2 linked regions of the Homo sapiens genome follow. The protein of the gene in region 2 purifies or fractionates together with the protein of the main gene of each other region. This does not show direct contact. Each region holds a gene or a part of one and is shown on either strand. Other genes may lie near its edges.

Region 1 (3,823 bases), on a different chromosome or scaffold from region 2:
GGCTGGAGTGCAGTGGCACGATCATAGCTCACCGCAGCCTTGAACTCCTGGGCTCAAGCCATCCTCCCACCTCAGCCTCCCAAGTAGCTGGGACTACAGGTGTGCGCCACTGAACCTGGCTATTTTTATTTTTTGTATAGATAGAGTCTTGCTCTTTGCCCAGGCTGGTCTTGAACTCCTGGGCTCAAGTGATCTTTTCACCTCAGCCTCCCAAAGTATCAGGATTACAGATGTGAGCCACTGCGCCTGACCTGCTTTAGTCTTTAGTAATACTTCAAATTTATATTGATCACTTTGAGGCATTGTGGAATTCTGAATTATCTTCTGAATAAGCAAAGAATTCTGCAAGTTCTCTGTTTCCTGTTGGTCCTCAGAGGCACTCTCCTGTAGACAAGTCTTTTTACTTCTTTGGGCCTTGTTCTCATTTTTCATATGAAAAGCCTCAGTTAAATGAATCTCTGCTGTTCCAACTAGATGGAAAAGCCTTGTACTTTTGTGGTTAAAATAAACACATTGAAATAAAGAACTTGGGAATAAAAATCTTATTTTCTCTCATCTCAGAATTATTTGTCAAAGAGAATCACGAATTAAGAATAGCAGGAGGAGCAGTGAGGGATTTATTAAATGGAGTAAAGCCTCAGGATATAGATTTTGCCACCACTGCTACCCCTACTCAAATGAAGGAGATGTTTCAGTCGGCTGGGATTCGGATGATAAACAACAGAGGAGAAAAGCACGGAACAATTACTGCCAGGGTGAGTCAAAAGTTTGACAGGTAATTACATTGCTTTTTTGGTAATTTTTAAAAACTTAATTTTCTCTAGTTAAAAGCAAATAACGAAAAGTCTAATAAAAAAGTCAGTCTCTTCTATGCCCGTCATAAACCCTGCAGTCCTCTGTTCTTGCAGCCATGTTTACTTTTTATGTTACCTCTCCATTTCTAAAAAGACCTTTGTATGCTACGGGTATTTACTTTTCAGTTTTTACTATCCCAGTTTTAAGATGTGTTACGTATTGACTTTCCATAAGGGAAGATGATTTAGCTTTCTTACCACACCCTTCTCAACAACAAGCACGTATAATTCTCCTTCTTCTGTCTTCCTAGTATATTTATATCATAATTTTTGGTTAAGTCAATATTCAGGGTTCACGTTTATGACTCTGTATTGTTTACAGCCAGATTGTGGAGTATATTGTGATGACATTTCTTCTATTGGCATGTTTTTAAATTTTCCTGCAGTTAATGGCATTTTTCTTTTACATAAGCTTTCCATATACTACCAATTTATTCCTGCACTCTGTGCCAGAGCTATAGAGTTCCTCTCAAAAGATTTAAACACATTATATCAAGTTTCAATTGGGTTTTTGGGAAACATCTTACCTGGTGCTGTCTTCCTGCTCCAATATGGACTTTTAGGAATTTCCTTGGCCTCTCTTTTTTGTTAAGCCTCCTGTTTCCTGGGTCCCATGTGCTGTTCTCTCTTGGCTTAAGCCCTCATTTTAATAATCCAAAACCTGAGGAAGCCTTACACGTCTGAAAATGTTTTTATTTCACCTCCATGGTGGTTTGATAGTTACGGTTATAGAATTCTAGGCAGGGAATAATTTTTACTCAGAAATTTAAAGGTATTGTTTTCTAGCTTCCAGTACTGCCAGTAAGTCTAGTTCCATTTAGATTTCTCTTTTGTTTAAAAACCTGATTGCCATTATTTCCTTTTGGAAGTCTTTCTGATCTTTTCATGTCTAATGTTTTTAATTTCAAGATGATATAACTTGTTTTGGATTTTTCACTTACTGTGCAGGGCACTTAGTGGGCCCTCATGTTTCTTTCATAATTTCATCCCTTTTGTTAAATGCTTTTTCCTTTGGAAACTCTTATTATTTGGATCCTGGATTGCTGGGACTGACCTTCTAGTTTTATCTTTTGTCTTTATTTTATATTCTCCTGTCTTACTTTCTATGAGAGTGCCTTAACTTCATCTCCCAGTCATTGTATAATACTGACAACTTCTGTGGTCTTGTAGAATTTCAAGAGGTCTTTCTTAGTATATTTCTTTGGAAAGCTTCCCGTTCATGTTTCAGATGGAAGATCTTTTATTTCTCTTAGGATATCTACTATAGTTATTTTGACAGTGTCTTTGTTTCCTCCGAGTGTTTTCTTTCAGGTTGGCTTTCCTTGAATTTGGGTGATGCTCTGTATCTGAGGGCTTTATTGTAGTTTTGCATGGGAAGTGTCAGCCAACTGGGACTCCCAGTCTAAGTCTCAGTAGGAGTTTTCATTAGGAGAAATCAGAGAAGAATACTCCAGTATTATGCCAGGGAATGAACCTGATTGTTAGCATCTTGAAACCAAGTAGGGAAAGGGATGAGGGTCATGTTAATTTTCACTTGAATCTTGTTTTCATTATGATGCTTCATTCCCATGAGCATCTGTGCCTGGTGCAACAAGTTCTGATTATTTTTGGTTGAACCTTTCTAGAGAATCAGTCCCTGGTTTTCTGCCTCATTAAGGGAGTCATTCTAGGTGGGTCTGATTATTTCTTAAAATGAGTTGCAAACAGTTTTCCTATTTCAAACCTTACCTTATTCTTTGCCTTCAGAGATACTTGTGCCTCAAATTCTTGAGTTCTGGAATTCTATAGTGAGAGATAGATGTAGCTTGTATTTAGAGAAGAGTATGTATCAAATTGAGAGAAATCCTACAACAGACTTCTGGTGATCGTTAACGGCTTTCACTTCCTAAATAAAGACATTCCTAACTCTTGGCACATAAAACACTTTATTCTCTACTCCTAAATGCTAATATGCTACCTGTCAGATATACTTTCTCTTTTACATATATTCCTCTTCCTCCACCGTGCCTTTGGTCATCTCTTCTCTTCATTTGAAGTTTTTCTACCACACCTGCATGTACAAACCCTGCTGCTTTTTCAAGGCTTGGCACAGACGCCACCCTAACATGAAGTTACTCAGCTTCCCCAGCTGGAGGTAGTCTGTCTTCCCAAGATAGAGGTAACTCTTTATTTTAATTTCTTTCTTTCTCTTTTGAGACAGGGTCTCACTCTGTTGCCTAGGCTGGAGTGCACAGTGTGATCTCGACTCACTGCAGCCTCTGCCTCCCGGGGTCTAGCGATCCTCCCACCTCAGCCTCCCAGGTAGCTAGGACCACAGGCATGCACCACCACACCTGGCTGGTTTTTTTGTATGTTTGGTAGAGATGGGGTTTTACCATCTTGCCCAGGCTGGTCTTGAACTCCTGAGCTCAAGTCATCTGCCTGCCTTGACCTCCCAAAGTGCTGGGATTACAGGCATGAGCCACCACCCCCAGCCTTTATTTTAATTTCACTGGGGATTATCAGTAAGGGAGTTGCAAGATCTGTTAACTGTACTTATTCTTTATCAGTCTTTCGCTCAATGGCAAATGTTCCATAAATTGACATTCACCTCTTTGCAAACTGGAGCTATTAAAAATATTTCTGATAATAGCTTGATTTGAAATTGAAGAACAGTTTTGAGTTTGATGTGGAGTTTCTCCACATCACTTGGCAGAGGTGACATGTTTGTGTGTTAAACTCATCTTTTTTAATCATGATGGATTTTTTTTAAAAAAATCAGTCTTTTGATCTGTTTTTGAATAATGTGGATATCTTTCTGTTTCAATGTTTAGGTATGGTAGTTGACGTTAAAAAGACTATAACTGTCAGGGCTTATAGTACCATCCCTTTATAAAGACAAAAACTTATTTTTTTCAATTCAGTAGTATGAAAACCTAATTTAAATGACAACAAAAACCCCATGTATTTAATTGCAGCTTCATGAAGAA
Region 2 (3,823 bases):
TGTGGAGGGCTGCCTTGCGCATTCTCAGATGCTTGTAGCATCCCTGACCTATGCCTACTACATGCTAGAAGTACTCCCCACCATCCTGTTTGTGATCATCAGAATGTCTCCATTCATCCCAAATGTCCCCTGGGGAGCAAAATCACTTCTGGTTTAGAACCCACTGGGCTAAGGCAAACCTTATCCTACAGGTGAAGAAACTGAGGCCCAGAAAGACCAAGTAACATGCCCAAAGCCAGTCAGCTAGTTCAAGGCAAAACCACGACTCAGATTCCAGGCTCCTGACTGGATGCACAGGGCATCTTCTGTTACACTCAGCCTGAAACAGAAGACTGTGGGCATAACCATGTGGGAGCGACCATGGTACATTAATGATCTCTTTACTGCCTGTCATGTTAATGTGACCTTACCTTTCCATATGCTGCTTGATATTCCTTAACAATCAGCTGCCGCTGTGCATTTGACCTCTCAGTCAGAATGCTGATGAGCATTTTCTCATCAGTTCCTAAATGAAACAAAAGTTATTTTACTCAATATTTATGCTCAACATTTGTCTTGAACAAAAGCAAAATGATCAATGGCCTGAGACAAATGCAGAGAGTAAGGCATTTTAATTTCTAGCATCTTATCTGGTTGGAATTTTATTTATTTATTTATTTATTTATTTATTTATTTATTTTGTTTGCCTGAGTTTTGGAAAAAAAAAGTTAACTTTATTTGGATAGTTTTGGGGGGAAGGAAACAATCATTGTCTAAATACTCCTTTCTGTACATCAGACAAAACAACCTACTACTTTTGAACTTGACTTTTTTACCTTTATGAGGTTTGGTTACTGTCTTATTGCCTTTTATCTCTCTCCCATACTTGATATCAAAATATTTCTTCCTCTGGAAAACAGGAACCAACACTTATTGAAAATCTGCCCTGCATGAAACACCCTTTTATTCATTGCCATAGTTAATATTCACAGGGGCCCGCTGTACTAAAGATGAAGACACGAACTTATCTTCCTTGCCAAAGTCACACAACTGCTGAGTGGTCCAGCAAGAAGTTGAACCCAAATCTCTGACCCCAAAACATATATTTCTATCTTTGGTCCACATCTCTCTCATGCATTTCTTCCACATCTCTCTCTCCCTCCCTCCCTCCCTTCCTTCTTTCCTCCCTCTCTCCCTCCTTCCCTCCCTCCCTCCCTCCCTTTCTCTCTCTCTCTCTCTCTCTCTCTCTCTCTCGCTCTCTCTCTCCCCTTCGCCCTTTCTCTCTCTCTCGTTGCCCAGGCTGCAGTGCAATGGCACGATCTCGGCTCACTGCAACCACCACCTCCCGGGTTCAAGCGATTCTCCTGCCTCAGTCTCCCAAGTAGCTGGGATTACAGGCATGTGCAATCATGCCCAGCTAATTTTTTTTTTAATTTAGTAGAGATGGGGTTTCACCATGTTGATCAGGCTGGTCTCGAACTCCTGACCTCAGGTGATCCACCCGCCTCAGCCTTCCAAAGTGCCGGGATTTCAGGGGTAAGCCACCGTACCCGGCCTCTCTCATAAATTTCAAACCCATATACAAAATGAATTGTTTGTAAGCAAAAGGTAACATCAGGCCAGAGCTGATGCTGGCCTGCCTAAGAATGACCTCAAGGTCATTCTTATCTTGGTGACTACAGTAGTAAGAAAAACGTGGAAAGTTGTGTCTAATTAATTTCCCAACCCACGATGATACCTGGTTTGGGAAGCTGTGAATTGGCTTGCAGGCCTAGAGCATGCATGACTAGAGAGGTATAAAAGAGCACCTGGAACTCAATGCTCAACTTCTTTGTGTCAAGGTGACCCTCACAGACCTCATCTACACACTTCCGTGGCAGTGGTACACAGCTTACATCAATGATGAAGCAAAAGCTTCTGTGTACTTGGTTAGCTGCTGGGCCTCCCAATGAAAGATGCTGCCTTTCTGTGTCTTTGGTTTTGTATTCTTACACATAGTTAAATAAATACCGAATCAGATTAAAGTGTATTTGTGCTCTGTGGGTCTGAGCACCAATTTGGTGCTGTGTATTGTACCCAGCATCTGTGTCAGTACACTACCGGCCACCACAACTGCACAAGTATCTGAAACTCAGCACATTCTGGGTGGAATTTATTGTATTTCCTCTCTGACTTGTCTTTCTTTTTATGTTCCCTCATCCACAACTATGGATATAGTCATCCAGGCAAAAACCCTGGGAATCATCTCAGATTCCTTTCTTTATCTTATTCTCTATATTATAGCAATTATCTGCATCTCTTAAATTTGTCGTCTCCTCTGCATGCCCTCTGCTCCTGTGTCCTTATCATATTTTACCTGGATAACCTAAATCACCTCCTAATGTGACTCCCATATAATTATTCCTGTAAACTACTGCCTAAGTAAATGTTTAAAAATACAATCTGATCATGTCACCCCCTTGGCTAAAATTCTAATGGCTCTTTGTAATCTTCAGGATGAAGTTTAAGCCCCTTAGCTCATGTATCAGCTCATTATGATCTCTCCTGCCTTATGTCTTTGTTCTCATTTTCTACCCCCTCTCTGCATCTCTATAACCTATGCACCTAGACTACAACTATACCAAACTACCTGCAGTTATGTGTAGTTTGTATGCCTGGCAGTTTCTCATCTCTTATTTTTAAACATGCCCAAGATCAAAAACTAAGCCAAGATGCCTCAGGTTCAGAGACTGTGTCTGACCCATCCCTAATGCAAACACCGTTATGATACCTCATTCTGAACTCAGAACCTATCAGAAGTGGTGCTCATAAACAATAACCTCCTTCTTAAAGAAGGCCTGTAAGCCAAAGTGCAAATTCATGAAGAAACATAATGTTTAAAAAGAGGTGACAGAATTTAAAGACTATTAACCTCATGAAACAGTCTATTCAACACTAGATATAAATAGGGCAATCAGGCTGGGTGCAGTGACTCACATCTATAATCCCAGGACTTTGGGAGGACAAGGCAGAAGGATTACTTGAGCCCAGGAGTCCAAGACTAGCGTGGGCAACATAGCAAGACCCTGTCACTACAGAAAATTTAAAAATTAGGTACACATTGTGATGAGCATCTGTAGTCCTAGCAACACCAGAGGCTGAGGCCATAGGATCCAGGAGTTTGAGGCTGCAGTGGGCTGTGATCATATCACTGCATTCGAGCCTAGGTGACAGAGCAAGCCCTTCTCTCTTAAAAAAAAAATAAGGAAATCAAGAGATAAATGAAGAAATAACTTACATTGAAAAATGGAAAAAATAAACCTCAAACAGGCAGAAAAAACATAATATTATATTGATATAAAGTTCTAATATAGTATATTTATTGAATTTGACAAGCTGATTTTAAAATTCATAGAGGAGGGCAAAGAGCCAAGAAAGACCTTGCCTGGTAGATATTTAGTGTCATTATAAAATCCTAATAATTGTGACAATGTGGTGTTGGGAGGGCCAAATAGATAAATGAAGCATAACAGAGAAGAGAAAAATAGGGAAGCATAAAACATAGGTGATATTACGTACAAATCAGTGTGAAAAGGAAGAGCTCTTCAATACATTGTTCTGGGACAATTAAATGTCCACATGAAATAGAATAAAATGAGACACCTTTAAATACCATCCATGAACACTAATTCCATGTAGATTTAAGATCATAATACGAAAAATAAAATTTCAAAACTTTGAAAAAAAAAGTAGGAGAATATCTAACTTTATGACTTCGTTATAGAAAAGATTCAATAAGCATAAATCCTGGACAAAAATATTGGTAAACTTGATTTCACTAAAATTTAAAACTTCTATGCAATAA

What was found.
Region 1: the proteins of ANXA3 (region 2) and TRNT1 fractionate together in Homo sapiens (co-fractionation; one large-scale study listed by BioGRID). This does not show direct contact.

What each region holds. Positions count from the first base shown.
Region 1 is NC_000003.12:3,136,699-3,140,521, forward strand, and holds part of TRNT1 (CCA tRNA nucleotidyltransferase 1, mitochondrial), read left to right. Parts: intron 1-561; coding exon 562-755; intron 756-3,811; coding exon 3,812-3,823. UniProt on the Homo sapiens protein: Nucleotidyltransferase that catalyzes the addition and repair of the essential 3'-terminal CCA sequence in tRNAs, which is necessary for the attachment of amino acids to the 3' terminus of tRNA molecules, using CTP and ATP as substrates. tRNA 3'-terminal CCA addition is required both for tRNA processing and repair.
Region 2 is NC_000004.12:78,575,709-78,579,531, reverse strand, and holds part of ANXA3 (annexin A3), read right to left. Parts: intron 506-3,823; coding exon 411-505; intron 1-410. UniProt on the Homo sapiens protein: Inhibitor of phospholipase A2, also possesses anti-coagulant properties. Also cleaves the cyclic bond of inositol 1,2-cyclic phosphate to form inositol 1-phosphate.